Regions from separate parts of the Homo sapiens genome. Here all the other regions are reported to be linked to region 3. Evidence: microRNA targets listed by miRTarBase, many of them from high-throughput screens and not tested one by one. Region 3 holds a microRNA gene; each other region holds the end of a gene's coding sequence. Distances are from middle to middle.
The links. The annotated mature microRNA hsa-miR-4480 reads AGCCAAGUGGAAGUUACUUUA and lies in region 3 at 2,780-2,800, opposite strand. An mRNA with a match to its seed (bases 2 to 7 or 8) in the 3' UTR can be bound and repressed. Matches are read on the target gene's strand: a 7mer-m8 pairs with bases 2 to 8, a 7mer-A1 pairs with bases 2 to 7 and ends in A, and an 8mer does both.

Region 1 (7,759 bases), not on the chromosome of region 3:
TAGAAAATTGTTTTTTGTATGGCAATGAAATTTGCTTAAGGGTAATATGTCTCTTTAGGGCATGATTGGTGACGTGGGATGTATGAATTCTAAATTTTTGTCTGCCACTTAGTTTAGATTACTTATCTATTGAATATTTCCCAGGCAAGGGGAGTTAGCACATGATGAACAGGACTGGAGATCTAATTACAAATGATAGTAAACCAAAGTGCAAAATAACAACGTAAAAATGTCAGTTTAAAATGCTGCACATGGTTGAGCTGCTACTAATCCTGATGTTTTTTTCTTGGGGTGTGGTGTGATCTAGATTGTCAGAAGCTTCAGTTCTGGTAAAAGAGAAGGTGGGGACTTTGTTTGCTGTGCCCTCTCTCCCCGTGGTGAATGGATCTACTGTGTAGGGGAGGACTTTGTGCTCTACTGTTTCAGTACAGTCACTGGCAAACTGGAGAGAACTTTGACAGTGAGTATTACTTACTAAGTTCATCTAAAGAAATATGGTAGGACTTGTGTCTTTCTGAACTCTGAAGTATGTGCCTTTTCCAGAGCTATCGATGTGACCCTCAGTATAAAATATGTTGTTTTAAAACATTTAGCTCCATGTCAAATTCAAGAAGTAAAATTAATGTCAGCTGCTATGATGATCCCCAAATCTCGGTGGCTTAACACTATATAAGTTTGTTTATTTTTATTTTATTTTATTTTATTTTGAGAGGGAGTCTCACTCTGTCACCCAGGCTGGAGTGCAGTGGTGTGATCTCGGCTCACTACAACCTCTGCCTCCTGGTTTCAAGTGATTCTCCTGCCTCAGCCTCCCAAGTAACTGGGACTACAGGCACATGCCACCACTCCTGGCTAATTTTTTGTATCTTTAGTGGAGACGGGGTTTCACCCTGTTGGCCAGGCTGGTCTTGAACTCCTGACCTCAAGTGATCCACCCGCCTCTGCCTCCCAAAGTACTGGGATTGCAGACATGAGCCACTGCGCCCAGCCTAAAGTTTATTATTATGTCACAATGTGATGTGAGTTGGAAAACCCTCCTCCATCTTTCTCCTATGCCATTTGGAATATGTGGCCTCCCAAGATCTCTTTTTCCCTTCCACCCACCTCTGGAAGCCTCATCAGAGTGATTTATTGCAGATCTGTACATCCTAACCCTGTGCTTTACATGTTCCAGGTGCACGAGAAGGATGTGATTGGTATTGCACATCACCCTCATCAGAACCTGATTGCTACCTACAGTGAAGATGGACTCCTAAAGCTCTGGAAACCATAATTCAACTTTTCTTTTTAAATCAGCTCGAAAGCATGTACTTAAATGAAGCATATTCATGTAATGTGCTTTTTTTTTTTTTTGCCAGCTTTTCTAAGCAAATAGATTGTCTGAATTAGTCACAGAATAATTTTGTGAAAATTCATGTTTAAGTAGCAACTACCCTTTCTTTTTTTATATATTTTTAAGGTATTAGTTTATCTTCTTCTAACTGGTGCAGTCACTTAATGTTTTCATTAATCTTCGACCTGGAGAGTGAAATACTGATATTTCTAGAAAAAAATTCTACTCCTCTGATTATTTGAAATGCTGAGGAAAATGTCCCTCCCATAGTAAAACTTGTAAATAAGGAACTATATCATATTCAGTAGCTGTGTTCTGTTCCATCTTTTTTTTTTTTTTTGAGATGGAGTTTTGCTTGTTGCCCAGGCTGGAGTGCAGCGGCACGATCTTGGTTCACTGCAACCTCCGCCTCCCAGGTTCAAGCGATTCTCTTGCCTCAGCCTCCCGAGTAGCTGGGGACTACAGGTGTGCGACACCATGCCTGGCTAATTTTTTTGTATTTTTAGTAGAGATGGGGTTTCACCATGTTGGCCAGGCTGGTCTCAAACTCCTGACCTCAAAGGATCCACCCGCCTTGGCCTCCCAAAGTGCTGGGATCACAGGCGTGAGCCACCATGCCCGGCCCATCTTTTTTTTTTTTTTTTTTTTTAAAGATGTTAATAAACTTTATACCTTTCTGGAGACTTTGTTCTAAAATGTACATAAATGCTCATCTAGTTAACATATTTACTTAGAATGTGGGAGGAGGAGTCACATTATTATCCCTGAATCTCAAGTACAGCAGAAGTGAATTCCTGGGATAGTAGGATAGACTAACATGTAAAAAGGCCAGGTGATGCATAGGTTCTCATTTCACTGCCCTCAGCCTTCCTCTCCTTCTGAGCTGTGCCTTCTCACATGTTCAGTCAACTCCAGGGAATATTGTCTCCATCTTCTGGATAGAACTAGTTGCAGGATCCGTTACAAGAATTCAGAGTTTTGGCATCTCCCCTTTGTATGTTGTAGGAGAAGGTTTGGCATTGAAAATGTGCTGTTGTTCCAAAGAAAAATTAGCAAAGGACTTGAGATTTAGAAAAGTCTCCTTTGTAATGTGCATCATTACCAGTTATCTAAAGAAAAACATGTAAAAGCCAACAAAACCCTTGAAAATATTTTGCATATGGATGTCTGTTTCACGTTTCAACTGAAGATGTATAGAGCACCTCTGATGATGAGGAAGATACCATGCTAGGCAGTACTTTCAAGAACGTGAGTTCTTATTTCTGCAGGCCTTTTGTGCCCCCTTTTAAATGTTAGCATTTATTAGGTACAAACTAGTGGGGAAGGTTTTTTTAAAAAGTTTTGCAGTCTTGTAATTTACCTTTTTAAAAAATTTATTTTATTTTTCTGAGATGGAGTCTTGCTCTGTTGCCCAGGCTGGAGTGCAGTGGTGCCATCTCAGCTAACTGCAACTTCCACTTCCCAGGTTCAAGCGATTCTCCTGCCTTAGCCTCCCAAGTAGCTGGGACTACAGGCGCATGCCAGCATGCCTGGCTAATTTTTGTATTTTTAGTAGAGCGGGGGTTTTGCCATGTTGGCCAGGCTGGTCTTGAACTCCTGACCTCAGGTGATCCGCCTGCCCTGGCCTCCCAAAGTGCTGGGATTACAGGCATGAGCCACTGCGCCCAGCCTTGTAATTTACCTTTGATGGTGACCTGAAATGCAGTATGATCCTATATGTGGCACGTAGTAATGTTCAGTGTTTGCTGAATTAATTCTGGGCAGCACTAAGAAATCCCTCTTTCCCAGTCATATTCTATAACACATTTCCCATTTGCCACAAAACCTGCAGCTTTTTGGTCCAGGTAATGACATTTGCTGCCATTTTGATGATTTAAAAATGGTCGTGGGAGTTGAACATAGTCATGAATTCAGGATTCCTGAGCATGTAGACAGTCATCCCAGTGGAAAGACACGTTCACTTAAGAGAAGTTTAAGTTAGAGGAAACAGTTTATGCTAAAAAAATTTTTAGAAAAGTCCTTGAGAATTTTTGATTTAGTCTTGACCTCATGAAGCTGGTAGTTATGATGTGCATAGTTTGTATCACCGTTTATGAAGATGGAGAATCTAGTCAGCACGTGTTGGTTTATTCTAGGAATTTTTAGGGAACACTTCTGTTGCTGGCACCAGGTGATGAATATGGTTAAAAAAAGACTCGTTTCTGCCTAAACATAGGGAAGAAGAGCAAATTAAAAGGAGTAATTAAAACTGATAAAAGCTCAAGTTACCTTTGTGATGATGAGGCGGGCAGTTAACGCGAAAGGGTTGGGAAAGGCTTCCTGGAGGGACTAGGGGGCGGTCTAAGCACAGGGAACCTAACCGGGGACTCCAGTGTGGCACAGCGGCAAGGTATGTGCTGGGCAAAATGATAGGTGTCTTGGGAGACCAGGCAAAGAGAGCTGGATTAGGAGCCGTTAAGTATATATTTTTCTTCTTTTTAAATAAAATAATGCACTGGGTGAACATGTAAACGCTAAGTTGAAAATCTGCCTTTCCCAGGTAACCCTTGTTAATCTTTCTACAACTTCATTTCGTACAAACCTGAAAAACACACTGATTTTGTCTTTAAATGGGCACACGCTGCTTACACTCCTCGGCGCCTAGCCTTTCTGAAGCCCCACGCGGCCGTCCCTCCAGCATTGAAGGCTGGGGCAGCCCAGCTCCCCTCCAGCGCCCTTACAGCCAGACCGCGGCGGGGTCGGGCCGCGCACGCGCAGGGCGGACGGCCGGATCTGGGGCGCCGCTGCTCCGGGTGGTCGGAGGTAGGAGTCCCATCTTGGGTCCAGGGCCGGTAGAGCCCCTTACCGGGGGTAGGGAGACTGCGCACCCGCTAGAGCCAACTGTCAGGGCCTGCAGACGTCGGGTGACGTCACTGTTACAAAATTGGCGGTCACATCGTCTTAAGGGCCGGTGGCAGCGGCTGCGCGAACGGGAGTTGGCTGCCGGGAATCAGTGCTCACTTCCTTCTGAATTGGGCGTGTGCAGTCGGTTCCTAGGGAAGTGCTCTGCTGCAGCCACCAGATTTAACGGATGCTGCTCTCTAGCACTTAACATAGAAGCTAAACTACCTGGCGTTAAAATTAATTCCATGAGCATAAGGACATTTGTCCTATCCCCTATTCTGCTGTTGAATTAATGACTGGAAAACATTGCGCGGAGGTATTTGGGAGTAGTATGGCTTTTTTTTTTTTTTTTTTTTTAACAGCAAATGGTATAAATCTCAGGTACAATTCAGTATCTTCTTCACCAGTTGTTTTTTTTCAGCATGTATTATTACTACCACTAACGGCCTCTGTTGAGCCCTTCCTTGCTATGTAAGCAGCCATATTTAATTCTCAGAACAATGTAATGAGGGTGCGCAAATGCACATGAAGAAACAGGTTTCCAGACGTGAGGCACCTAACTCAGTCCAACTTGCACGAAGCTCGCATTGAAAACCAGATGTGACTCCGAAGCTAGGTTTTTTTTCTCTCTTGCCTCACTCTCAATATTGCTGTCAGTTCCTCCTCAATCTTTAGGTTTGGGCAGGGACAAAGAATACATGGATTGTTCCTCCACATGCTGCAAACACATTCACCTAAGCAGAGCACAGGTAGTGAGATGAGTAGAGAGAACTGAATTAGAGGATTCTGGATGTCAGTCTTTGCTGTCACTTCTTTTGGCTTGTGCTAGAACAGTGGTTCTTACAAGTGTCACGTGATAGACACATTCTAAGGTCCTATCCCAGACCTACAGAATCAGAAATTGGTGGTGGGGCCCAGCAAGCGTGCTCAAATTTGAGAGCAGGTAGACTACAGGGTAGTTTCCGCATATACAAAAGGTGTTTTAATTCTTGCTGTCAGTCTCAGAAGTTTCATGCTGAGATAACCAAATTTAAATGATAAAGGTGCAAGACTGACTCTTAAAATCACATTTTTTCAAATTGCCATAGCTTGCTAGTGTTCTCATTCACTGTGCTTTTACAGCTTCATTTTCCACTATTTTAAGAGAAGAAATTGCTATGAAGTGTATGTCCAAGTGAGGAAGTTCCCTGGTCTGAGGTTGTTTAAAACTTACAATAGGCCGGGCACGGTGGCTCAAGCCTGTAATCCCAGCACTTTGGGAGGCCGAGGTGGGTGGATCACGAGGTCAGGAGTTCAAGACCACCCTGGCCAACATGGTGACACCCTGTCTCTACTAAGGATACAAAATTAGCCGGGCATGGTGGCACACGCCTGTAGTCCCAGCTACCTAGGAGGCTGAGGCAGGAGAATAGCTGGAACCCGGGAGGCAGAGGTTGCAGTGAGCTGAGACTGTGCCACTGCACTCCAGCCTGGGTGACAGAGCAAGACTTGGTCTCAAAAACAAAAAACAAAAAAACCAAACTTGGAATAGCAAGGGCTGCCCATTATTTAACCTTCCACGGCAATTTTAACAGTGGTATTCTGTTCCAAGTGGTTAATATTAAATCCATGTGTCAGTGTTGGTGGCTTTCAACCTTGGCTGCGCATAATCATTTTGATGCTTAGGCTACACCCAGCCGAGTTATACAGAATCCCTGGAGGGTGGGACCTGATGAGTGTTTTAATGTTTCCCGGGTAATTCCAATGGTAGCCAAGGTTAAGAACCAGTACCGTACGTACAAAAAAGTTGAGAAGCTAATTTCACGTACAGAAAATTTGCCACTGTTCCAAGAGCACTCTCAAGCGACATAATTGGCCTCTACTCCTATTCCCTACAAGTATGAATGGGCAGGAGAAGCATCACAGAGAAAGCAGAGTTAGTGCTGGAACTTGTATTTTTGTGGATGATGACCTTGGTTAATGTTTTTTCATAGGCTCTGTTTCATAGGCTTTGTTTTTTCATAGGCTCTCCCTCATTACATTGTTCTGAGAATTAAATATGGCTGCTTACATAGTAATGAAGGGTTCAACAGAGGCTGTTAGTGGTAGTAATAATACAAGCTGAAAAACTACACAGACAAACCTATCAGTTTCTGCCTCTTCAGGATATAACTATTAGGTTAGTGCAAAAGTAATTGCGGTTTTTGCCATTAAAAGTAATGGCACATTACTTTTGCACCAACCGACCTAATATGACTTTCTTTTAGTGTTCTTAGGATTTTTAATTGTAAAACATGTAACAAATTTTCCTAAACAATTGTGCAATTCAGTGGCATTATTTACGATGTTACGCAACCACTATTGTATTTCCAAAATGTCATCACCCTAAACAGAAGCCCTGTAACATTGTCAATTAACTTCTCCTTCCCTTCCCCTCAGCCTTTGGTACTGTTTCTGCCTCAATGCATTTGTCTAAGTTTAGTTCATATAAGTGAAATTATACAATACTTGTCCTTTTTTATCTGGCTTATTTCATTTAGCATGTTTTAAAGGTTCATCCATGTATCAAACAGTAAAGTGCTTCATATTTGGGGGAAGTATAAAAAGTATTCCTTTTAATGGCTGTGTATTTCACAGTGTATGTACACATGTATATTGAGAATTGAGAGATTTGTAGGTACACATTAACCATTTGTTGGTGGACAGTCAGGTTTCCACTTTGGGCTGTTGAGAATGCACAGTAAACACTGACCATACGAGTTTTTTTTTTTTTTTTTTTTTTTTGAGACAGTCTCCCTCTTGTCGCCCAGGCTGGAGTACAATGATACAATCTTGGTTCGCTGCAACCTCCACCTCCTGGGTTCAAGCGTTTCTCCTGCCTCAGCCTCCCAAGTAGCTGGGATTATAGGCGCCCACCACCACACCCGGCTAATTTTTGTCTTTTTAGTGGAGACGGGGTTTCACCACGTTGGCCAGGCTGGTCTTCAACTCCTGACCTTAGGTGATCAGCCCGCCTAGGCTGCCCAAAGTGCTGAGATTAGAGGTATGAGCCACCGCGCCCGGCCTTCATTCGTTTTTAATTCCTTTTGTATAGTCATCCCTCAGTATCCATGGGGGTACTGGTTCCAGGACTTTCCATGGATACCAGAATCCGAGGGTACTCAAGTCCCTGATATAAAACAAGATGGTTATTTGCATATAACCTACACATCCTGCGTAATTTAGCCATCTAGCTCTAGGTTACTGGTAATACCTAATACAATGTAAGTACTATGTAAACAGCTGTTATACTTTTAACAGCTGAAGTCTGTACATGGTCAGGAAACAATTTTTCCCAATTGTTTTTGATCCAAAGTTGACTAAATCCATGGATGTGAAACCCAAAAAGGAGGGCCAGCTCTGGGTCATGTGGTAATTCCATGTTTAGCTTTTTAAGCAGCTGCCAGACTTTTCTACAGCAACTGCAACATTTTACATTACCACCAACAAAGTACAGAGGGTTCCAATTTCTCCATATTCTTATTTTCCATTTTTTGGATTAGAGCTATCCTATTAGGTATGAAG
Region 2 (7,759 bases), not on the chromosome of region 3:
AACCTGGGAGGTGGAGCTTGCAGTGAGCTGAGATCGTGCCATTGCACTCCAGCCTGGATGACAGAGCGAGACTCTGTCTCAAAAAGTAATAATAATAATTGAAAGTGATTTAACACAGTTTAGTTCGTTCTGTTAATTCCCATTAACAGGTCTCAGAAATCATGTAGAAGCTTCCAGGCTTTAAAAAGCCCCCTCGCTATCTGGGCGCAGTGGCTGACACCTATAATCCCAGCACTTGGGGAGGCCGAGGCAGGCGGTTCACTTGAGACTGGAGTTGGAGACCAGCCTGGCCAACATGACAAAACGCCGTCTCTACTAAAAATACAAAACAATTAGCCAGGTGTGGTTGTGGGTGCCTGTAATTCCAGCTACTCGGGAGGCTGAGGCAGGAGAATCACATGAACCTGGAGCTTGCAGTGAGCTGAGATCATGCCACTGCACTCCGGCCTGGGAGACAGAGCAAGCCTCCATCTCAAAAATAAGTAAAATAAAAATATTTTGATCTTTTTTAATAAAAATTCTTTATTACAAGGGAAGCAGATGCAAAGTTATAACTAAAAAAAATTGTAAAAAAAAAATAGAATAAATTAACCATGAGCCGAGGGAGGCATACAACATATAATCACACTAGATCAGTAATAATTAAAACAGAAATGTGTCATGCAGTAATTTTAAACGCCCTCATTTGCTTAGTTTTCTACCTTTAGTACCCAGATCCAATTTCTTTGAAAGGGAAGAATACACGCTACAACTTCTTCAGTCATTGGTTTATACTTCATGTCAGCTGACCTCAGTTTTAAAATATGTTGTTACCTTGACTTGAAACTCATTTGAAACTTGATACATTTTCCAGGAAGAATTATGTGAAAAAGTGACAATGCTCAGGTCAATCCACAAAAGCCTGTTAATGCAATGTACTAATAACATGGAGCTGGCCATTATTTGCAAAAACACTATTTGTATGAAAATTGTATTCAGAACTCAAATTTGTCCTTAAATGATTGAATTTTGTAAAATCTCATTTATCCTTTATGGTTCATTTCTTATTTATTGAAAGTGGTAATTAGAAATATTTTAGGCATGGCTGGGCGCAGTGGCTCACACCTATAATCACAGCACTTTGGGAGGCCAAGGCAGGCGGATCATTTGAGCTCAGGAGTTCGAGCCCAGCCTGGGCAACATGGCAAAACCACATCTCTACAAAATACAAAAACAAAAAAATTAGCCAGGCAGTGGCGTGTGCCTGTGGTCCCAGCTACCCGGAAGACTGAGTGAGGAGAATCGCTTGAGCCCAGGAGGCAGAGGTTGCAGTGAGCCAGATCACGCCACCACACTGCAGCCTGGGGAATAAGAGTGAAACCCTGTATTAAGACAAAAAGAAAAAAAAGGCAAAAGTTATATTCTTTAAAATTAATTTTTATTAGCTAACAACCCTCCCTTTTCCCTTTTTTGGTTTTGTTTTCCTTAGGAAAATATGCCCAGGTTACCAACAATCCTGAAAATGATGGATGTATAAATGCAGTCTTACTGGTTTGACAGCAATTTCATATATAATTATTGAGGACTACACACCAATTGAAGAAACTGCCATTACTGTGATGTTTCTGAATACTACCAAACAGCCATACATGTCTGCAATGAAGAGATTTATTAAATTGTAAACATTAAAGTGGTCCAGTTTTATAAATGGTCTTTATTTTGAAATACGCTTTGACCCCATGTTCATAAAACTGAATGATTGAAAAAAAGCAAATATACAAATATCCTACTTCATCAATATCTGCATTTGTGAGTGGGTATTCAGCAATTTCCTGAAAAAACCACCAGTGTTCATTGAAAATGCCTTTCAAAAAGGTTAATACACAATTATGTGTCTGAGAATTTAACTGAAGTATCTTCAAAATCTCGTTAATCATTAATCCTAAAAAAGGTAGGTAGCATTAATACAGATGTTAAGTTTATAGTGTTTGTTTACACTAGAAGTATGTGAGAAGACACTAAAAGTTCAGAAATCTTAGAGAAATCTTTTCACCTGTGAAATCCAGTACAGCAAAGGTCTAGTGAATTCACATTCTAAACATTTTTTTCATCTCATTTACCATGTATAATAATACCTACTTGGCACTATTTTCTACTTGAATCATGAAAATGAAAAAAATATACTAAAGTCTTTGTACTCTCTTAGCATTTTCTGTATTCTAAACAATATATTTATACTTTCAGAATAGTATTAAGAATTAGTTTAAGTAACTCCAGCTAAGTTTTAAAAGGAAAAAGAAGACTGCACTGATTCCCTGAGGAGAAATTTATTTGCAGTTACTTAGATGATGTAAAAAGGTAAGGATTTACGGTTGTAACTTGGTGAAAGCACTTTTGTGATCTGTTATATGTTGTGGTTTTAAGGATGGCGTATATTACATTAATCTATAATCACCACATTGTTTTAAATTGTTTATTTTTTTTTTAAAGAAGTCTGTCTTCAGAGTACAACCAATGTGATTAATTGTGCCTTTAACAAAGTCATTCAATGTCTAAACAAATTCAGTATCTGAAACATCTTCATGAGGAAAACTGAAGGAAAGGAATTTAAAAACACAGACCAGGAAACAATCACAAAATATAGGTTTAATTACTACTTTTAAACTTAAAAAAAAATAAAAACCAAGAAAACAAACATAGGTACTCCAGTAAGACTTGCTACTCTGAATAATGTAACATTTTTTCTAAGTTCTATAAATATATACTGGAAGTTTTAGAACACATACAGACGCTTAGGAAAAGAAAGGCTAGTTCCTTGGAAATGACGATCCAGGATGATACAATCACTTGATGACAGAAGGTAAGCCTTTCTTACAATTAGATTTTAGCAGATAATTTTACCACTAATATAAATGGGTGATGTGTGGATCACAAGTTCTAGAAGGCGAATAAAAATACTGACTCCAGGTAATTTCTGGATACTACAAAAATGAAGTTTGCTTGTTTTTTTTAGAACCAAAAATACTATCTTGTAAGGTACAAAGAAAGCTTGATATTAAGTATGAAAACATAAGCATAACATTTGTAACTAATCACACCCATGAAAGACGACTAGATGACACCTGAAACATTTTTCAAAATACTGTAACACAGATGAGTAATATTAGTATAAATTTTTTATGTACATTAAGATCTGTTTCAGTTTGCTGGTGTGACCAAACCTTAGAAGGTAATCCCAAGGGATAAAGCAGAACATAAGAGCAGATATTTAGATATTAGTACAGGCTCAATTTGATGCAATCATAAACCTTCAAGATTTCTAGTCACTGAAACCCCATTGTAGGTAGTGTTCTGGAGTCTGCTATAAGTAAATCTTTAATGACTAGATGTTTTCCTTACCATCTACACTGAATGGAAATACCATGAATATAGACACATTTTAAGTAGAAGACTGACGTTCTAAATCATGCTGTTTGATTTTATAAAAAAATCATAATAGACCCTCTCACCTTTAAAAGTTGTAGAGGAGCTTTATAATAAATTCTTAAATATACTAATTTCTGTGATGTCTAGCAATTGAATAATTTAAACTTGAAAGAACTAAAATACTAATAACCATCTGCTTTATATTACACAAGGAAATATACACGTATGTACATAAAAAGTGAACTCCCTTCACAAATAAGTTCACAAAGGACTATGTGTAATGTGACTGGACATTCAACAACTAGACTAGCCGGTTGAAATCACATTTTCAGTCCTCTGTAATTGTGAAATTTTTTCTAATGCCTTGCAAAAACTACAGATAACTGATTAAGTTCATGTAGGTTCCTTATTGAAGATAAATTGTGGTATAAATTCTATACTCAAGTTACTGAACATGAGAGTTAGGTTTTTCCAAGTGATCTAACTTTTCCCTCTATAATCTATAAACCCCAAAATAACAATTTCTGTCAGAGAGAATCTGTAACAGAAGTGTTCTTGTGTGCTGAACAAAAAACTTCTAAATTGTTTACAATTCACTTACTATTTAACCCAAACAAGTTTAACAAGAATAAGTTTATACTGTTAGCCCCCAATGGTCATATATGATTAATAAACATTTTTTGTAAACTCAACTATATTCACACATCAAGAGTTGAGCCAGTGAGCTCAATCTTTAAAAAACTACACTTGTCTAAAGAAAGTCTTTTAGTGCTCACTTCGGCAGCACATATACTAAAATTAGAACAATACAGGGAAAATTAGCATGGCCCCTGTGCAAGGATGACACAAATTCATGAAGCGTTTCCATGTTTAAAATAATTTGAAAAGAAAGTATTTTAAACAAATCCAAGTAAAAATAAAATATCTACAAGTGTTTTCAAATCTAAGAAATGAAACATGTAAAGATTAAGAATTTACTGAATCTTAACAGAGTATTTCCCTTTGTGATATTGACAGAAGTTTCTCATAAAATGTATAAAACAGCATAAATGTTTGGTAGATTCACTAATAGTAGTCATACTTTTTTTTTTTTACTTAGTATTAGCATTTGTTGAAAAAATAAATGGCCAAAGTGCTTTAATTTTCATTTAGAATGAAATAATCTGGCTTACCTTTGACTAATTAAAGAAAATATAGGGTAATACAATTGTTCAAAATCTAACACAAATAGGAGCGTTTACTATTTTTGTCTGCTTTAAGATTTTAACTTGATCGAAAATACCAACATCCCCAAACAAAATTTACTGACCTGACATCAGCTTACTATAGACTGAATACACTTTCAACATCAGTCCTTAGCTACCTCAAATAATGACACAAAGTCTTAGTTTCTTTTGCATAAGGATCAAGATCAAGCTATTTTTAAAACAATTTAAATGGTCTCAAAACATTCTCCAACTTAAGTGCAAATTTGAGTACACATAATATTTCCAAAGAGTAGAACTGTTTTTAGATTATCTTTGGATTCTAATAACCATTTTGTCCATTTTTAAATAAATTACAAAAAATAACAGTTCAGTGTTTTTTTTCTTCAAATTTTCCTAGGCCTTTGTTATGGCAACACAATATATACTTAACAGGCCAGCTTGCAACCAGTACTCAGTACAAATCAAAGGATGATTGAAGCCTCCAATATGATTGAAGCCCTTGTAACCACAGCTCCCCCAAAGGCAGTTTACCCCTGCCATATAGGTCTAACACTGGGGGCAGTTTTACTCCTGCCATATAGGTCTAACATTGTGGGGTGCACCTCCAAACCTACCCAAAAATGGACATCAAGGGCATAAGCCGGCAGGCAGGAAGATCTGTTGATTGGAGAATCACTCCATGAGTTACAGAAGTAGATGAAAGCTGTGGGGGAATATAAATAAGACTGTAGAATTAGGGAGGTGGCAAGATTTAAGGAGATGCCTTAGGAAGGAGCCTCATACTTCTGAAATATAGATGTTAACTGGGTTGGGATAAAAGTAAAATCTCCAGCTTAATTTATCTATCTGATCAGGACCAGAAGTCCAAATTAAACCATGTCTCCAAAGTATAGTTGTGATTTTTACCTGATTAAAGGTGAAAGTCTAAACTTCTAGGCGTCTGCACATATGCAGACAAAAAAAATTACAGCAAACTAATACTTCAAATGAAATTTTAAATAATTAGTCCCCACATGCCACAGTTAAATCCCTGACAGTACTGTTAACATCAGATGATAGAATGAATCAGAAACAGATTTTATGTGTACCTTTCCATAGATAGTGAAGTCAAAGGAAAAAACTGCATCTATATCTAGGATTAAGAGGCCAAAACCAAAATATCTTCATGAACCTTTGACCGTAAGTTTCTGTTTTTGTGCTCTCATTTACTTGAAGTTATATTTTTTCTAATTTATTGACACTTATTTTTGTTTAGGCATGCCTACATTTTAAAAAATTGGTGATTAGTTTTGAAATTTAAAACTTCTAGAACCCTCACCAAGTTTTACTATTAAAACCCTTAGTATAAAAGATTTCTGTGATCCTTATAAGTAATGGAAATCCTACTACTTTCACAGCTTTTTAATTATATTTTTGAAATAATGGTCAGATGTACCACCTGATAAAGAAAATATAATATGATCTGGTTTCCCAAAATTGAAACATGGTTAATAAAAATAAAAAATTGCATTTACCAAAAATAGCCTGGAAAATTAAAAACAATGGTGAATTCTACGTTCTAAAGGGAAGCAAAAAACTGCATAGTAAGTAAGTTCAAATTGAAATTTTGGAAATTTTTGTCCTGTGCCCCATGCTGTTTATTAATTACCATATTTTAAAAACAACAACTATGTTACAAAGAAGAGGATTTATCATCCACTTTCTTCTTCCTTCAGGTCAGCTTAGCTTTCTTCTTAGCAGGTCCTTTATGCCCTTTGGCCTTTCTTCTTAAATTCCGCCTGTCTACCACAGGCACTTCCACTTCTATTTCCTCTGAGCTGCTATCCACAGCTTTTTCTGCCGATTGTGTAAACTGATCCAGTTGCTCGGAAGATGCTTCAGACTGCTCCTCTGACTGATTCTTCTGTCCTGCATTCTGTGAAAATGGCACGTCTTCAAGTTCAACCTCTATCAAAGAACTCTGAGGAAGAGCAGTAGATGTTTCCTGGGGCTCAGATACCCCCTCCTCACCCTGGTCTTCCAATGAGGAAGTAGTATTAGGAGACAAATTCTCAGAGACCGGTTCTTCGGAAAATTCAGCTATCACAGAGTTTGGAAAACCACCATCAGATCGTTCTTCATTTGACATAGTAGCAACATTGTCTGAACTCCCAAGATGTGCTTTCTTTCTTGGAAGTAGGGACAATTTCTCTTCCATGTGCCCCTTTTCATCAGATGTGCCTTCATCCATCAACATTTCTGAGTCAGGTATACGTGGGGTCTGAAAATTAAAAACCTGGTCAACAAATAAACTTGTACTACAGTTCTAAAAATAAATTCTCAGGCTCTAATATGCAGTGACACTGAACTAGAATTTAATTCGGTATTCATTACTCAAAATCGAGTATTTTTTTGAATTTCTGTTCTGCTATATGTGTATATATTCTGAATACAACTCAATTTCTTCAAAATTGTTTCACATGGTAATTTTAATACTAAGTTATTACTTTGAGGATATAATGAAATAATTATTTCATAATTAAGACACATTAAGCTTCATATCAAGATTCTTTAAAACCATGAATCAACTCAGTTTTTTTAGTTTCCTGGTGTTACTGGAGCCAGAACCAAAAATACCTTGGGACTTCACTGCGCTACCACACTACGTTTGACTACGATTTCATTAGATAAGTTAGGGCAATGGAAGTTTTATTCTTTTGCTTAGGTGAGACACTAATAATGCCATACAACAGTTTTTTAGCCATAAGTTGTAATATTCAAAAGTAACAAAATTAAATTTCTTTTAAAATACTCCAACAAGTTTTTTCCCCCACTAACCTAATCTGTCTGCCTAATTAAAACAAATATAAATTACTGTTTTGGTCATAGTCTATGTAACAAATATAGGTACTCAAATATTTGGTAAATAATGCTTTATCCAATTTTCTAAGCATTTCCTAACTACAAAGTATTAAAAGTAATAAAACTCATTTTGTTACCACATATCAGATATGAATAAGGTTATTATTTGAATTTATAGAATATTACTGATTTTCTTATAATATCAAATCTAGTATAAAAGTTAATCTTCCTAAAGCACTGTACATGTAAAGGTGGAAGCAAATATATATACCATGCACCCTCCTCGCTAATGTCACCAACATTGG
Region 3 (7,759 bases):
CTTCACTCCTGCAAGAATGGCCATAATCAAAAAATCAAAAAACAGTAGATGTTGGTGGGGATGCGGTGAAAAGGGAACACTTCTACACTGCTGGTGGAAATGTAAACAAGTAAAACCGCTATGGAAAACAGTGTGGAGATTCCCTGAACAACTAAAAGTAGATCTACTGTTTGATCCAGCAATCCCACTACTGGATATCTACCCAGAAAAAAAGAAGTCATTGTACAAAAAACATACTTGCACATGCATGTTTATAGCAGCACAATTCACAATTGCAAAAATATGGAACCAGCTCAAATGCCCATCAATCAACGAGTGGATAAGGAAATCGTGGTATATATATACCATGGAATACTACTCAGCCATAAAAAGGAATGAAATAATGGCATTTGCAGCAACCTGGATGGAACTGGAGACCATAATACTAAGTGAAGTAACTCAGGAATGGAAAACCAAACATCGTATGTTCTCACTCATAAGTGGGAGCTAAGCTATGAGGATGCAAAGGCATAAGAATGACACAATGGACTCTGGAGACTTGGGGGAAAGGGTGGGGATGGGTAAGGGATAAAACACTGCACACTGGGTACAGTGTACACTGCTCAGATGATGGGTGCACCAAAATCTCAGAAATCACCACTAAAGAACTTATTCATGTAGCCAAACACCACCTGTTCCCCCAAACCTATGAAAATAAAATAAAGGAAAAAAGCACAATGCCCCCACAGAATGCTGGCCATTCAACACAATAATAAATATATGTTAGCTGATGTCAGTTGTTCAATTTCTCCAGGTAAAATAATACTTTTCAAAACAATACACACATTTCCCAGAACCTAATTTCCCACCATTGGCCATTCCTGGGGTTCCCCATAGGACCCTCTCCACACACTCCTGCATTCTTCTTAGGCTGGGGTCCATATGAACAGGATGTGGTTCTCCATGACTTCTGTTTTTCTCTTTCTAGTGGGGCTTAAATGGTACAATCTTTTATGATTTACATTCCATTTTTCAAGTACAAAGTGAAGTTTCTTCTAGTTAATAAGTCCTGTTTGAAGAGTAAGAGTTCTGCATACAAAGTACATGTTTCACTCTCATCGGAAACCAAGTTCTCAGAGGAGTTAATCTGTAGCTAATTCAACAATTGCAGAGTCACTAGCTTTGTACACCAAATACTGTCACCCGGGAGACAAGGGGTGAGAAACAGCAGGCTCCAGTCTCCCATTAAAGCTATATTAAAAAAAAAAAAAAAAAAAAGGAAGGAAGGGAGGGAGGGGCATATTTTAGTCCAGATACATTGGTACAGCCTAGATGCCCAATTCCTAAACATCTGTTAGTGAAACTAGTTACAGATGATGTTGACGAGCAAATCGTAGCCTTAAGAATTATCTCAAGACAGGACAGATCTGGCTCACACAGCCAGGTCTGAATGACTAACCCTTTAGGAAACCTCTCACCAGGGAATTCTGGCTGTGCCGAAAGGCCCTGCGAGGTTCCACAGAGCAGTATTTTCCTCCCCAGAGGAGATGGCATCATGGGTTTTCTGCTGAAGGAAAAACGCCCCAGTGGAGGCCAAGGGAAAAAGCTTAGAGCAGACACTCTCCTAAAGGATTCCACCCTGGCTGAGAGTGGACACTTTTCTAAAGAATTCCACCTGAGCCAGGGCAACAAGCAGGTTCAAAACTGGCTTTTGAAACTCAAAGCCACTCCGTGAATCTCCAACCTATCTTGGTGGGAACTCATGGAGACAGATCCAGAGAAGAGATCCGACCTCTCGCTTAAGAAGTGTGAACCATGACAAGGGTGGTGCAGCCCACGGTCCCCATCACAGTGAAGGCATCTAAGAGCACAGAGAGACAATTGTGACTGGTCTGGTCCGGAAGGCTTCATGTTTGCGTAACACTGGAGCGAGCTTGAGAGATGGTCAAGATTTTTGACAGGTAGGGAAAGAAAAGGGTACAGGGAAAAAGAGTAGTAGATGGAGAGAAGAGAAAGTTATTTTTGTTTGCTCCAGTGGGAAGAGACAGACACATCATGAAAGATCCAGCAGGAAACACAGACTGACCCCCAAATACAGAAGGCCTGGAGCACCAGACTCAATGGTCTGACCACATTCCAAAGGCAATGGAGAGCCACTCTTTAATGGAGAGAACAAGATGATCAAAGAAAGCTACATGATTAAATTGGCTTAAGTAATACATGATGGATGAGAAGAAGTGGAGAGAAAAGGCTGCTGCAACTGTCCAGAGATAAGGCCACGGGGCCCAACACAGGATTCAGAAGAAGGAAAGGAAAGGAAGGGAAAGATATGAGGAATGCTATGCAGGACTCTGTAACTGCAGACCCAGGAAGTGGAACAAGAAGAGGAATGCTCCCCTCATCCTGCATCAGCCACGATGCTGTTCCCTGCCCATACCATGCTGTTCCACACCCACAGCCTCACTCAGGCGCCTTCCGAGGACTCCTCGCGCTCCCACACCCACCCAGCCAATTGTTTCTTGCTCTTTGAAGCTCTGTTCAATTTCTCGGTGAAAGCCCCTTCCCTGGAGCAGACACACTTCCCTATGCCCTTGAAGCATATGGCACTTCTTAAAGGGCTGCTGTCTTCTGCTCGTGCCTCTGGGCACCCACTAGACTGCACATTCCCCAGCACAGGGCTCATGTGCTATGCGTCTCTACCCACCGTGTTCACATAGCACCTGAAAACAGTCAATCGAGTGTAGAGCTTCAGCTTGTTGTCTCTAAAGTCAAACTGAACTGGTGCAAATCATCACAGAGGTAAAGTAACTTCCACTTGGCTACTTACTCCCTGGGTGGCCCTGTGGAGGTCAACTCACCTCTGCAATGGTCAGGTTTCTCAGCTGTTAAAAGTGGGTCATCGGTCTCGGTGCAGTGGCTCATGCTTGTAATCCCAGCACTTTGGGAAACTGAGACAGAAGTATTGCTGGAGCCCAGAAGTTCAAGACCAGACTGGGCAAACTAGAGAGACTACATCTCATCTCTACAAAACTTTTTTTTTTTTTTTGAGATGGAGTTTAGCTCTTGTTGCCCAGGCTGGAGTGCAATGGCACGATCTCGGCTCATAGCAACCTCCGCCTCCCGGGTTCAAGCGATTCTCCTGCCTCAGCCTCTCGAGTAGCTAGGATTACAGGGATGCACCACCACGCCCAACTAATTTTGTATTTTTAGTAGAGACGGGGTTTCTCCATGTTGGTCAGGCTGGTCTCGAACTCCTGACCTCAGGTGATCCATCCGCCTAAGCCTCCCCAAGTGCTGGCTGCCTAAGCCTTCCAAAGTCCTGGGATTACAGGCGTGAGCCACTGTGCCCAGCCCTACAAAACATTTTTTAAAAAATTAGCCAGGCAAGGTGGTGCATGCCTGTAGTCCCAGCTACTTGGAAGGCTGAGGTGAGAGGATCGCTTGGGCCCGGGAGGTCGAGGCTGCAGTGAGCCATGATGGTGCCATTACACTCCAGCCTGGGCAATAGTGCAAGACCCTGTCTAAAAATAAATAAATAAATAAAAAGCAGACTATCACAATACCTTCCGTGCAGAGTTGCTGTGAGGATGTAAGATAATGCAAATATAAACGCTGGCAGCTGTGCTTGCCTAATAAATGTTAGCCAATATTACTGTTAGCATTGAATACCAATTTGTTGACTGCATGGATGATTGGATGAATAGGTGGAGATTCCATCTTTGATTTTTTACGTAGATAACTGGGATCCTGGGAATGACATTAGCAAAGGTAACAAGGAGGACACCACGTGGGTGGGGAAGGAGGAAAATGGGCATAATCTTGGAGGGGCTGAGTTAACGATGTCAGCCAAGCATCATACCCCGTTATGGGGCATTGGCCGGAGTGGGGTTTAGGTCTCCAGAAGTCTCATGAATAGAACCCCTAAGACAATCTGTAGCAGGAAGAGGGAGTGAACCAATCGAGAACTGGTGGCTTAGCAGCAAAATACAGACAACAAAAGAGAAAGACAGAGACTTTTTGAAAACAAAAAAAAATCTCCTATTTGATCATTCCGAAATAGCCATGATATAGTAATAATGGCAGAAACAGAACTTTGTTGGATCTCTTTACATTTATTATATGGTTTAAAATGCTTAATTTAGTTCTTTAAATAAAGAAGAAAAGCAATGTGCTCTGCAATGTTTCAGTGCTTTGGGCCTGTAACGATCTGAATCCAGAACTGGGTAGATCCAGGCTGGAGGCCTAGAGGGAGAGGTCAGATTCAGAACTGGAGGTGGCAGGTGTTAATCCACCAAAGGGCTGGAGGCATAGTTCCTAGTGAGAGACCTGCAAGCCTAGAGCTGGAACTGGGCTGGGAACCCAACACGGCGACATACAGAACCAGCCAGGAATTTTCGCTGTGTGTCCGGGGACCTCCCCTGGGCTTGTCCTGGCTTGTGTTATTGGCCGGGGGGACTGCAGCATACATGGGTGAGTGACCAGAGGGCTTCAGCATACAGAGTCAAGGTGGCCGTCACCTCCTGCAAGTGCCCCAGCCTGGCACATATTAACAAAGGCATCCCAGTCCGTGCTAGAAACCAAGATGCACGTGAAAGTGTTCTGGAACTGGTTCCACGGCCTCTCTCCACCCCTTTCCCCAGGCTGGGTTTTGGGGCTCTGTGTCACTCGCAGAGATGTGGTTCCTTTTCTGCCAGACACTCCAGCTCTCCATTCTGAGATAGACGGCATGCAGGTGTGCTCACTGACTGACATGCACAGGACCAAGCCAGACACCAGCATGGATTTGTCTACAAAGCTCTAGAAATACAGAGCCGAGTCTCCAGAACGGCAGTACCAGGCCGTGGAACCGGGCCGCACACCAGGAAGGTGAGTGGTAGGCAAGTGAGCATTCCCGCCTGAGCTCTGCCTCTTGTCAGATCATTGGTGGCAAAAGATTCTCATAGGAGCATGAACCCTATTGTGAACTGTGTATGCAAGGAACCTAGGTTGTGTGTTCCTTATGAAAATCTAATGCCTGATGATCTGTCACCATCTCCCATCACCCCCAAGTAGGACCATCTAGTTACAGGAAAACAAGCTCAGGGCTCCCACTGATGCTACATCATGGTGAGTTGTAGAATTATTTCATTATATATTATAATGTAATAATAATAAAAATAAAGTACACAATAAATGTAATGCACATGAATCATCCTGATATCATCACCCTCCCCCTCCTCCGGTCAGTGGAAAAACTGTCATCCATGTAGGCAATCCCTGGTTCCAAGAGGGTTGGGGACCACTGCTCTAGAATAATAGTCTCCAAACTGTGTTAACTATGTGCCCCCTTCAGTACAAAATACTCAGGTACAAAACCCCCAAAATAGATACATTAATTTATAAATTATAACAGAGATACCACTGCACTCATATCTTATGTAAATTTAAAACTTACACAGCCTTAAAACTTTAAATAATTCGATCAAAGAAACAACATAAATAAACTATTTTACTTAGGAACAATGCAGTTCACATTTTTGCTTTCACTAGAAAAATGTTATGAATAAGAGAGTATTTTAAGTGAGATCAATGAAACTGAATATTTCATTTGTATTTGTATTGTTACTAAATTGTTTTATCCTTGTAACATGACTGACAAAGAACTCCCAGGAGCAGAAATCTGAGCTCTTTCATTATCCTCTTGTGTGCTTGCGCTTGCATTTTTAATATTATCTTCAAGCCATGGTTTCCTTCCAGGAATCTTCTTAAATTCTTGGTCTATTTTGTGAAGGTTGGTTTAGGTAACACTAGGGGATACAACCCACAAATCCATTTAACCAGCCACATGCAAACCACCACTGTCTTCTTAAGCTCAAGGCAGAGGAGCGCGAATTCTTGGGGGGTCCACGGGTCCCTGGGAATGAGTCACAGGCTTGTGACTGTCTGCCTGACAAACTGTCAATCCAAAACAATACTCATGATTCTTAACTTCCTCCTCATTCTAAAAGATCAAATTATAAGTGGAAGTGCTACCATTTTCTTTCTGCATCCCAATGGACCATCTTGTCTACCCACTTTGGAGACCACTGCTTTAGAGAGACATGAAGGCTGGAGATTTTGCCCTGGACGTCCTCCAAATTAAAGTGAGAGACAAACCAAGGGGGATTCCAGAGATGGACATTTGGAAAGCAAAGGAGACAGGATATCAAATTGTTTTAAATGTCCCCAGCTAAGAAACAGGAGTGATGGCTGGGTGTGGTGGCTCACACCTGTAATCCCAGCACCTTAGGAGGCCAAGGCGGGTGGATCACAAGGTCAGGAGTTCAAGATCAGCCTGGCCAACATGGTGAAACCCCATCTCTACTAAAAATATAAAAATTAGCCGGGCCCGGTGGCAGGACCCTGTAATCTCAGCTACTTGCGAGGCTGAGGCAGGAGAATCGCTTGAACCTGGGCAGCAGAGGTTGCAGTGAGCCAAGATCGTGCCACTACGCTACAGCCTGGGCAACAGAGTGAGACTCCATCTCAAAAAATAAAAAGAAAAAGAAAAAAGAAAAAAATAGGAGTGATAGGGGTTGGATCCGTGTCCTCACCAAATCTCATGTTGGATTGTGGTCCCCAGTGTTGGAGGTGGGGCCTGGTGGGAGGTGATTGGATCATGGAGGGCGGTTTCTCATGAATGGTTCTGCACCATGCCACTGGTGTTGTTCTCCTCATAGTGAGTTCTCGTGAGATCTGGTTGTTAGAAGCGTGCAGCATCTCCTCCTTCACTCACGCTCCGGCTCCTGCTCCTGAGGAGCATGTGAGACACTTTGCTCCTCCTTCTGCCATGATTGGAAGCTTTCTGAGGCATCCCCAGAAGCAGAAGCCTCTATGTTTGCAGTACAGCCTGCAGAACCATGAACCAATTAAACATCTTTTCTTATAAGTTACCCAGTCTCAGGTAGTTCTTTATAGCAGTGTGAGAACAGACTAACACGAGGAGGAAGAAGTCAGCAAAGGAGGTAAGAAAGAATCCCAGGCCAGATGCAGTGGCTCACACCTATAATCCCAGCACTTTAGGAGGCCAAGGTGGGTGGATCACTTGAGGCCAGGAGTTCAAGACCAGCCTGGGCAACATGGCGAAGCCCCGTCTCTACTAAAAAAAAAAAAAAAAAAAAAAAAAAAAATTAGCTAGGCGTGGTGGTGTGCACCTGTAATCCCAGCTACTCAGGAGGCTGAGGCATGAGAATCGCTTGAACCTAGGAAGCAGAGGTTGCAGTGAGCTGACATTGCACCACTGCACTCCAGCCCAGGCGACAGAACAAGGCTCCAACTCAAAAAAAAAAAGGACAAAACAGAAAGAAAGATCCCCTAGGGAAGGAGGGAGGCAAATGTACTTAAGCAATGTCATAATTAAAGAATCTGAGTTTTAAGAAGGGGTTGGTGGTCAAGAAGTGGTCAACAGGGCCCAGTGTTTCAGAACAGTCATGGGGACTCTGCATTCTGCAAAGGCTATGATGTTTGGCAACTCAAGAATCATTGTCAAGTCTTTAAAGAAACAGTTTCAGTACAATGGTTGGTCAAAAGACAAGTCCTAAAGGGGTTGGTGAATGAGTGGATAAGTGAGGAAGTACAGCTGCAGATGTAAAAATACAATATAAATAATTTAAAGAAAGAAGGTGCCAAGTGCAGTGGCTCACACCTGCGATCCCAGCACCTTGGGACGTCAAGGCAGGAGGATCACTTGAGCCCAGGACTTTGAGACCAATCTGGGTAGCAGAGTGAGACCCCATCTCCACAAAAAAAAAAAAAAAAAAAA
Region 4 (7,759 bases), 38 Mb from region 3:
TCTCTTCTTCAAAAGTGAATGCTCATCCACTAGACACAATGCTAACATGAAAGCGCATAGATTATTTTTTTAATTCTCAGATACTTTGGTTCTCTGAGGCGGAGAACCAGCATCAAGGCCTCTGAATACAACAAGCACAGGCTTGATGAGGGGCTTGGGAGGTAAGAAGGTGCTTTTGCCATTCATAGTTACATGTAAATATGGACAGGTTAGGCATTTGCTTTTAAGGTATTATGGAAAAGCACACTTAACCTTTACAGTATTTCTCCTACTGATCTCCCAGTCTTTACACATCTTCTTGGGTAAAGGCAAATGTTTTAAATGTTTCATTTAGGCAGGTGTGGGGTTACAGGAGAACCAGTCCCACAGATCCCCACCTCCCCACATACCATGCCCAGCCAGCCCCTCAGTCACCTTTTCTCATTTATAAATTTGGAGACCCTCAAAACGCTAAAAATCACAAGCTTTAATCAACTCAGTATCCTGTTAAGTTTCTCTTTCTTGGACCCTATCCCAAGCATCTTTAATTCTCTTAAGTATAAAGTGATTCTGACACAGGTGGTTGACCCCACTTTAGGGAACATTGTCCTAGGACTGTTTAAATATCATTGAAAATCACTGAGTCCACATATTGTGTCCTTAAGGACACTTTTTAAAACATATATATTAACTTTTAGCTTTAAGCAATATGTTAAATGTTCGTATTTCTAAAAGAAGACAAATAAGCCAAAAGGGAGCAAATGTGAATTCCTTTCATCAAGTTTTCTCTGCCTCTTCCTCCAGGATATGCTGTCCCTAATGCAACTGCACCCGTGTCTGCAGCCCAGCTCAAGCAAGCGGTAACCCTTGGACAAGACTTAGCAGCATATACAACCTATGAGGTCTACCCAACTTTTGCAGTGACTGCCCGAGGGGATGGATATGGCACCTTCTGAAGATGCTTTTTTAAATTTAAGAATAAGACACACAAAACTCTATTAAAAAAAAAAAAGAAATAAACCTCTAACTCGGTCCCCAATGATCATAAATAATATGTTTCCTAAAGAAATGCCTTTCCAGAGACTGTATAGCTTATACCAATTATAGAATCATGAAGTAAGAACGTTATTCTGAAATGAAATCAAATGTTAAAGAGCCTTTTGTTTAACAGAAAGCTGGAGAGCCACTGCCCCAAAAGTTGTTCTTCCAGTCTTCCTGAGTGTTTGGGGAGTATGTTTACAAATCCTGCCAGGGTGAAGAGAGATCTTGTAGCTGGCAAGATTTGGGAGGGATGGAGCAGACCTGGGCAGTCAGTAATAATCAAGGGAAGCCAAGTAAACTCCAGAGTCTTACCTCTGGCTCACAGCTGCTTTTGTGATACACAAAGTCACAAAGAGGAAAAGGGAAGGGAGGAGGTTGCTTTTCAAAATGCATTCACCATGGCTCACTGTGTGGGGCATGATTGCAGGCCTGAGCTCATGAAAGACTGTCCAAGATTTTGTGGTTTCAACCTCTCTTCAGCCTGAAAATTCCATCCAGTCGATTTGTCACAGATCAGGATCTTCCTGTCCCCTGCAGCCCATGGGGACTTCCTAGAAATAGATATGATATGTTGTAGATGTGGTTAAAACAAATCCAGGCCCCATTGTTTATTCAGCTCATTAGTCCACACCTATTTTTCCCTAGAACTCCTACCTTTTCCAATAATCATGCCAGCATGAAATGACCTTTTCTACTTTAAAATTTTTTGACTTGTTCATATTGCTTGATTTTCATCATCTCAGACTCATTTTTCTCCTACCTAATATCATAAAAAAGTAAATCAGATATACAGAATATCATTTATGATACTTCTTCCTTTCAGCAAATTGACTGAAAAGTCATTTTAAAGAGAGAAGTGCAGATTTGCTCTCATTTCTTTGATATTGTTGCAGTATCCACCCCACCATCTAGCAATCAGAGATGCTTATATTAACTTGGGATTAGCTTTGCATTATCTAACCCATTTATTTTAAATCTGCCAGGAAATCCTCTAACTTTCCTTCCTTTTTGTTTCAGTAAGTATCAGGCAGCTTCACCATACCTGAGTCCTTTTGTCTTGAAGCTGCCACAGAAAAATCTTACAGCAATCATTGCTGATTAGAAACTGTTTCAGACAATCAGCATGGGTGTTATTTACCAAATTCCCCCCAGAGTCCTAGGCCTCTTCTCCAGAAATATCTGATGATGAAGTGAGGGGAGGGCAACGGTGCTACAAAACACGGAACAGAGGTAAAGAGAAGGCACTACTTTCTTGCCATACTTGTAAATGATTGCTTTGTTCAAACATAAATAATCTTAAGTCCAACACCAAATACCTGTTACTCCTACATCAATCTCATTAGTGGTTTAAGACACAGTACTAGAATTTTCATTTTTTAAAATCCCTTGGCCCTTAAAAAAATTTACAGAACACAAAGGAAAACATAAACACAAAGACATGGAAAATTTTGTCAACTCCTTAATGGAATTCTGTGATCAAAAAGCAGGCCAGATTCTAATCAAAATCAGGTAAATTTTAATCACAATCAGAAGTACTTGTAACATTTCAGTTGTCCTAACTCCAATGAGATAACAAAGCCTCCAAGGCTACAGCTGAAACTCTGAAAGGCCCTGTGCTTTCTACTTTACATTTAGCGTCTAATATTTCCTAGGACAGTAGTTCCCAAAGTAGGCTGTACATTAGAATCTCCTGGAGAGCTTTTTAAATGCTAATGCCAATAACATATCTCATAAAATTTACACTAGAATTTCCTTGGATGGGTGCCTGGCATCAGTATTTTTTAATGATCCCTAGGTGATTTCAATGTGCACCTAGGTTTGGGAATTGCTATATTCTTGTATTTATACTCTATCTCTTTATTTCTTTTCCTTTTTATTTCACTTTTAGTAAATAGAAAAATGCAATTAAAAAATCATCTAAGTTAAGACAAATAGCCAAATCATATTTATCCCATAAATAGTATGAATTTAAATGTAACTTACGTAGGCTTCAAACTAACTCTAAAAATGAGAAAGTAAAACAATCTTGTCCTAAAACAATTCTTAGATCCAAATTTACACTCCCCTACAGATCTGCTTTTATTCTCAAAGACAGTGATTACATTGACATAACAAATGTCCATTGGGGCAGGCAAATTTCTACTGAGTCTAAAAAGCATTCCAAATTCTAGGAGCAAAAGTTCTGATTTTCCTTAAAATCTTTGCAAATAAACAGCAAAGGGTATTCTGGATGTCTTGTCAATGCAAATTAGGTTTGATTTAGAGAAGTTTTAAATTTAATCGCAATGAAAAGATTAGTTAATACATGAATCTTTTTATGAGAAAAAATCATTATTCTGGATAAAGTCATAATTGTTTGTTTACAATATTAAGAGCAGACACCTAAACATACAATAATACCAAAGTATTGAGAAAATTACCACTGGAACACCATCTCAAGTTATCACACCATTTACCTCTTTAGAGCCAGTTTTGTATAAGTAGGTAGAAGTGGTTTTGGTTTTTTTGCTAAAATTTTACTTTGTTTTAGTAATATCTAGGGAATACTTTGAATTCCATTAAAATACCTTCATAGAAAGTGTTAATGTGTCTACCATGCCATATGTTTATTTTTACTTTCCCCAAGTTAGGTAGATAGAGCAAGTCCTGCTACCATAAGTTTAAAATTATTAAGACAACGGGCTTTTTTAAATTGCTGGTAGAACCAAAGGCTAATTTTGCATAGGTTTATATTTTTAGACTTAAGAAATTAGCACCTATATAATACCTTCATACCTTCTGCATCACTATCAATTTTTCTGTAATTTCTTATTTGAATGCTTCCTAATTCTTTACAGAAAAAATTAAAATTTGTCACCCAACCAGGTGATAATAACAAAACAATAATTTAGGAACATCCAGTAAATTTGAATTAGTTCTCTAAATTTTGGTAATTAATAGCTTATTGATAATTAAAATCAGCCTAATGTTGCTTAAGTAGGAGGAAATTGATCAGCAATGGGATTGGGTATCTATTTTCTTTCCTATAAAAGTGCTGCCTCTTCTCAAATTGCTTTATTTCTCTCCCACTGCATTAGTATATCTAGAACAGCACCTTCAACTGCAACAAAATATAATTCTCCTAGATGACTAGGATATCCTCCAATCTGGTATCATGCCAAACAACACTATGTTTGGGGAACAGCACCCGAAATGCTGCTAAAAAGCTACCTCATGTCAAGAAAATATGGATTTCAAAAAATATCTGGCACAGTGGCCCATGCCTATAACCCCAGTACTTTGGGAGGCCAAGGCAGGAGGATTGCTGGAGGCCAGGAGTTCAAGACCAGCCTGGGCAACATGGAGAGACTCCGCCTCTACAAAAAAAAAAAAAACAAATTTAATTTAATTGGCCAGTTGTGGTGGCGTGGGCCTGTGGTCCCAGCTACTTGGGAAGCTAAGGCAGGAGGATTGCTGGAGGCCTGGAGGGCAAGGCTGCAGTGAGCCATGTTCACATCGCTGCACTCCAGCCTGGGTGACAGAGCAAGACCCTGTCTCCAAAAAAGCAAAAATAAATATCTAACAAAAAGGAACCTGTTTCCAAACCACAGTTTCTTAACTTTTTCATGATGGAATAGAAATTAAACTATAAGTATATACTGATAATAGCTGTGCAGGAAATTGGTTTTTATTTTACTTAAAAGTATTTTTTAGAAAAAATGTTATTCTGATTGCATAGATTAGCAAAATATTGCATCAATATAATGTTCCATTTTTATTAATTTTTGTTATATTCTAAATGACCGTTTTATAATTCTGTCTTGGACAACTGGGCCACAGTTAGAATCCACATAGACAGGGAGGTTCTTAGGTGTGCCATTTGTAGAATAAAGGGCAATCAAGTTAATATTCGGGGTAAATTTTCATTGCATTCTAACCTATGAAGTTTGATAAAGTATATTATTATTGAACAACTCTAACACTAAGATTTCCTAAAAGTAACTTACAACAAAAAATGAACTATGTGCTCAATATTCACATAAAGTCATGATTATTCTCTTCTTGCATTCATATAAAAGTTCCCAGGGGGAAGAAAATATATCTAAAAATTAGACTAGAAACTTGGCACTTTTTATGTATTGTAGATACACTTTCATATATTGTAAATACATCTGTTAAAGATAAAACTAAGTTTCTAACATAGCACTACAAGGAAACTTTGGATAAATATTTTTAAAAAGAAAATGTTAATAGGATAACTTAAGATTTTGTATATACTTATTGGAAGACAGGAAGAAACTAGGCAGTAAATATTCCTACCTGACGTGCAACCATTGTCAATCAGGTTTTGTTAAACTGTCAAATTTGATTTTGAAATTTTAGTTTGCCCAAATAATATCTTGAAAATGCTCTGAATTTTACTAGAACATATTCATAGAAAGTGTAATGTATCTACCAGGCTCTATGTTTGTGTTTGCCAACATTAGAAAAACAAAGTAAGTTGCGCTATAATGAGTGAAACTAAGGAAAATGAGATTTTTCTGACTCCCATTCCCTCTCTTAAAAAGTAAAATATTTAAGCTTTTTTTATTAAAGGAAAAATGGGTACAGAATACTCTATTGCCCTCCAAATGTCCAACATTTTTAAAGCCATGTTGTCCAACAATGTTTATACAGAAAATAGAATGCATAGGTTTAATATAGATAGCAATGTATATGTAGGCTCATTTGTGGGAGATTGCAAACTTTATGTGCCCCCAGTTCTCCTTGGTTTTGTAGGAAAGCTAAAAGAAAACCTTGTACTCTCACTAATAATGAAATTCATAGCCAATTTAGAAAGGGAAAATAACCTGAAAACCAAAATACCTCATTCATCTGAAGATGCCTGGAATAAAATATGGAATTCTTCTGTACCTACCTCCCCCTTACAGACTTTTCTCCTATTTTGAGAGAGAAATTCAAGAAGAAGAATACAGCTTGTTCTCTTTCCACAAATGATACTTTGTCTAAGGGAATAGGAGATACCAAGAAACAGTATCTTTAAAAAAGTAAGCTGCCCACAGGCCTTCTTGGAGAATGAAGAATATCAGCCCCATTCAGGGTTTACCAATGTCTCTCTGAGGTGACAATACATTCTGGTTTTCCAGGACAGTCCTGGCTTAGGTCTGCTGTCCTTCTATAAATATTAACAATGATCCCTCTTATTTCCAAACGTGTCCCAGTTTAGACAACAAATTATACAGTGTCTGCCCCCAACACACACACACACACCCCACCATCTTTATGGGTTGTTGTTGTTTTCTTGTTGTTTTTAATTTTGTAGAATTGGCTTTGTCTTCTCCAAAGCAGATAACAGCTTAAACTAAAGAGCCTAGCTACTTCTTTCTGACTGAGCAGGGTCATAGTAAACAGAGAAGAATGGATCACTTCCTCCTCTGAAATCTCCATCAATCCACTTTCTGTCCAACTATCTCTCTACCCAGCCTATTTTTGGTCCTAGTTTTCCTCTCATAACCCCTGGGCTGTGAGTCCTGAGTTCTGCCTTCATATGGCAGAGCAAGCTAGTCATTATTATGCCAGGTTAGGTGGTGGGGCAAGACAAAAGATAGCTCTTGGGGACACTTGCTTGGTCTGTAGAGATCCACAGGGCACTAGTAGGGTATTAGAGCATTTATTGGTTTCTTTCTTCCTTGAGTTGAGTTACTTCTATCCCAAAACAGACAGGTCTTACGTTAACCTTCACCTTAAAAAGGATATTGCCTTTTTTCCTTCTGCTTCACAAATTTGCTCCAACACTAATTCCCTTGCATTTGATTTCATCATTATGATTGTTCATCAACCATTCTTCACGAAAAATCCTCACATCACGTCATATAAAGGTTTTATTATTTTTAATGGAAAATAACATTGAGAGATTATTTTCCTTTTTCATAAAATTTCCCTTTTTCCCTCCCTCTATTCTCTTCACTAACATTGGAAATTAAACAAGTTTTACAGGCTCTATTGTTATTAACCCTCAAATCTATTCTTCAGAGAATATATGATCAGCCTGTGTTTACTATGCACCTACTCTTATACCAGAAACTGTGAATACAAATACATATATTTCCTACTTCTCTCTTTAATTGGGGCACACAGTCCCATGGTCCATTCTGCATTTTTCAAAATTGAATATAATTGCAACACCTGATAGGTTTTGCCACTTAGAATTCTGAAAATAAATCAACTCTGTTCTAAACCTTAAGTTTCCACTATTATTGCCAAACTCTGGACTGATACAATAAGCCTTTTAAAAGGTGAATTTAACACTTCACCTATTATGGTTATTTAAGTAAAATGAGTTTTCAAATATTTCCCCCAGGAGAAATATAAAGGACTATGCAAAAATAGAAGGAGAAAAAGGTTAGTTAGAGGTCCAGAAGGAGAATTAAAACATGGAATTGATAAATTCACCTACTGATTTATGATGTTAATGAGCAGGTACCTATACATTTTATTTACTTGAAAACATTTTGGCCATTAACTATTTCTGTTTTCTAAATACATTTGTGTTTATAAAATTTTAAAATCTATATCACAAGACTTAGACATGCCTTTCTTTGCAATAAAGTATATATACCTTTTTACAAATGTAAATTTTATTTTGAAACTTGGCATTTTCTTTATAATTCCTAAGATATCTTTGGGCACACAGACTACAGATAAATCTATTTAAATCAATTCATCATTATCACTGGTTTAAATATTTAATGTAACCATT

Region 1: miRTarBase lists SMU1 as a target of hsa-miR-4480. The part of its 3' UTR that is shown has no 7-base or 8-base seed match.
Region 2: the mRNA of NSA2 is a reported target of hsa-miR-4480. Seed matches in the 3' UTR shown: 8mer at 2,117-2,124.
Region 4: miRTarBase lists A1CF as a target of hsa-miR-4480. Seed matches in the 3' UTR shown: 8mer at 5,120-5,127 and 8mer at 7,648-7,655.

Annotation. Positions count from the first base shown.
Region 1 is chr9:33,040,807-33,048,565 of GRCh38, reverse strand. It overlaps SMU1 (SMU1 DNA replication regulator and spliceosomal factor), which reads left to right. Exons shown (of 12, transcript NM_018225.3): 11 at 308-460; 12 at 1,175-6,801. The coding sequence ends at 1,273. Among named protein-coding and RNA genes, the nearest start is that of DNAJA1, 19 kb to the right of the region's middle. RefSeq lists a silencer at 3,908-4,227 and an enhancer at 4,082-4,583.
Region 2 is chr5:74,775,136-74,782,894 of GRCh38, forward strand. It overlaps NSA2 (NSA2 ribosome biogenesis factor), which reads left to right. Exons shown (of 6, transcript NM_014886.6): 6 at 1,469-4,978. The coding sequence ends at 1,536. FAM169A (family with sequence similarity 169 member A) reads right to left here. Exons shown (of 13, transcript NM_001376049.1): 13 at 2,439-6,873. The coding sequence ends at 6,325. It also overlaps the pseudogene RNU6-1330P. Among named protein-coding and RNA genes, the nearest start is that of NSA2, 12 kb to the left of the region's middle.
Region 3 is chr10:12,573,837-12,581,595 of GRCh38, reverse strand. It overlaps MIR4480 (microRNA 4480), which reads right to left and starts at 2,843; the gene lies at 2,773-2,843. The region is part of intron 2 of CAMK1D (calcium/calmodulin dependent protein kinase ID); the gene reads right to left.
Region 4 is chr10:50,799,905-50,807,663 of GRCh38, reverse strand. A1CF (APOBEC1 complementation factor) reads left to right here. Exons shown (of 13, transcript NM_014576.4): 13 at 784-7,759. The coding sequence ends at 935. Among named protein-coding and RNA genes, the nearest start is that of ASAH2B, 64 kb to the right of the region's middle.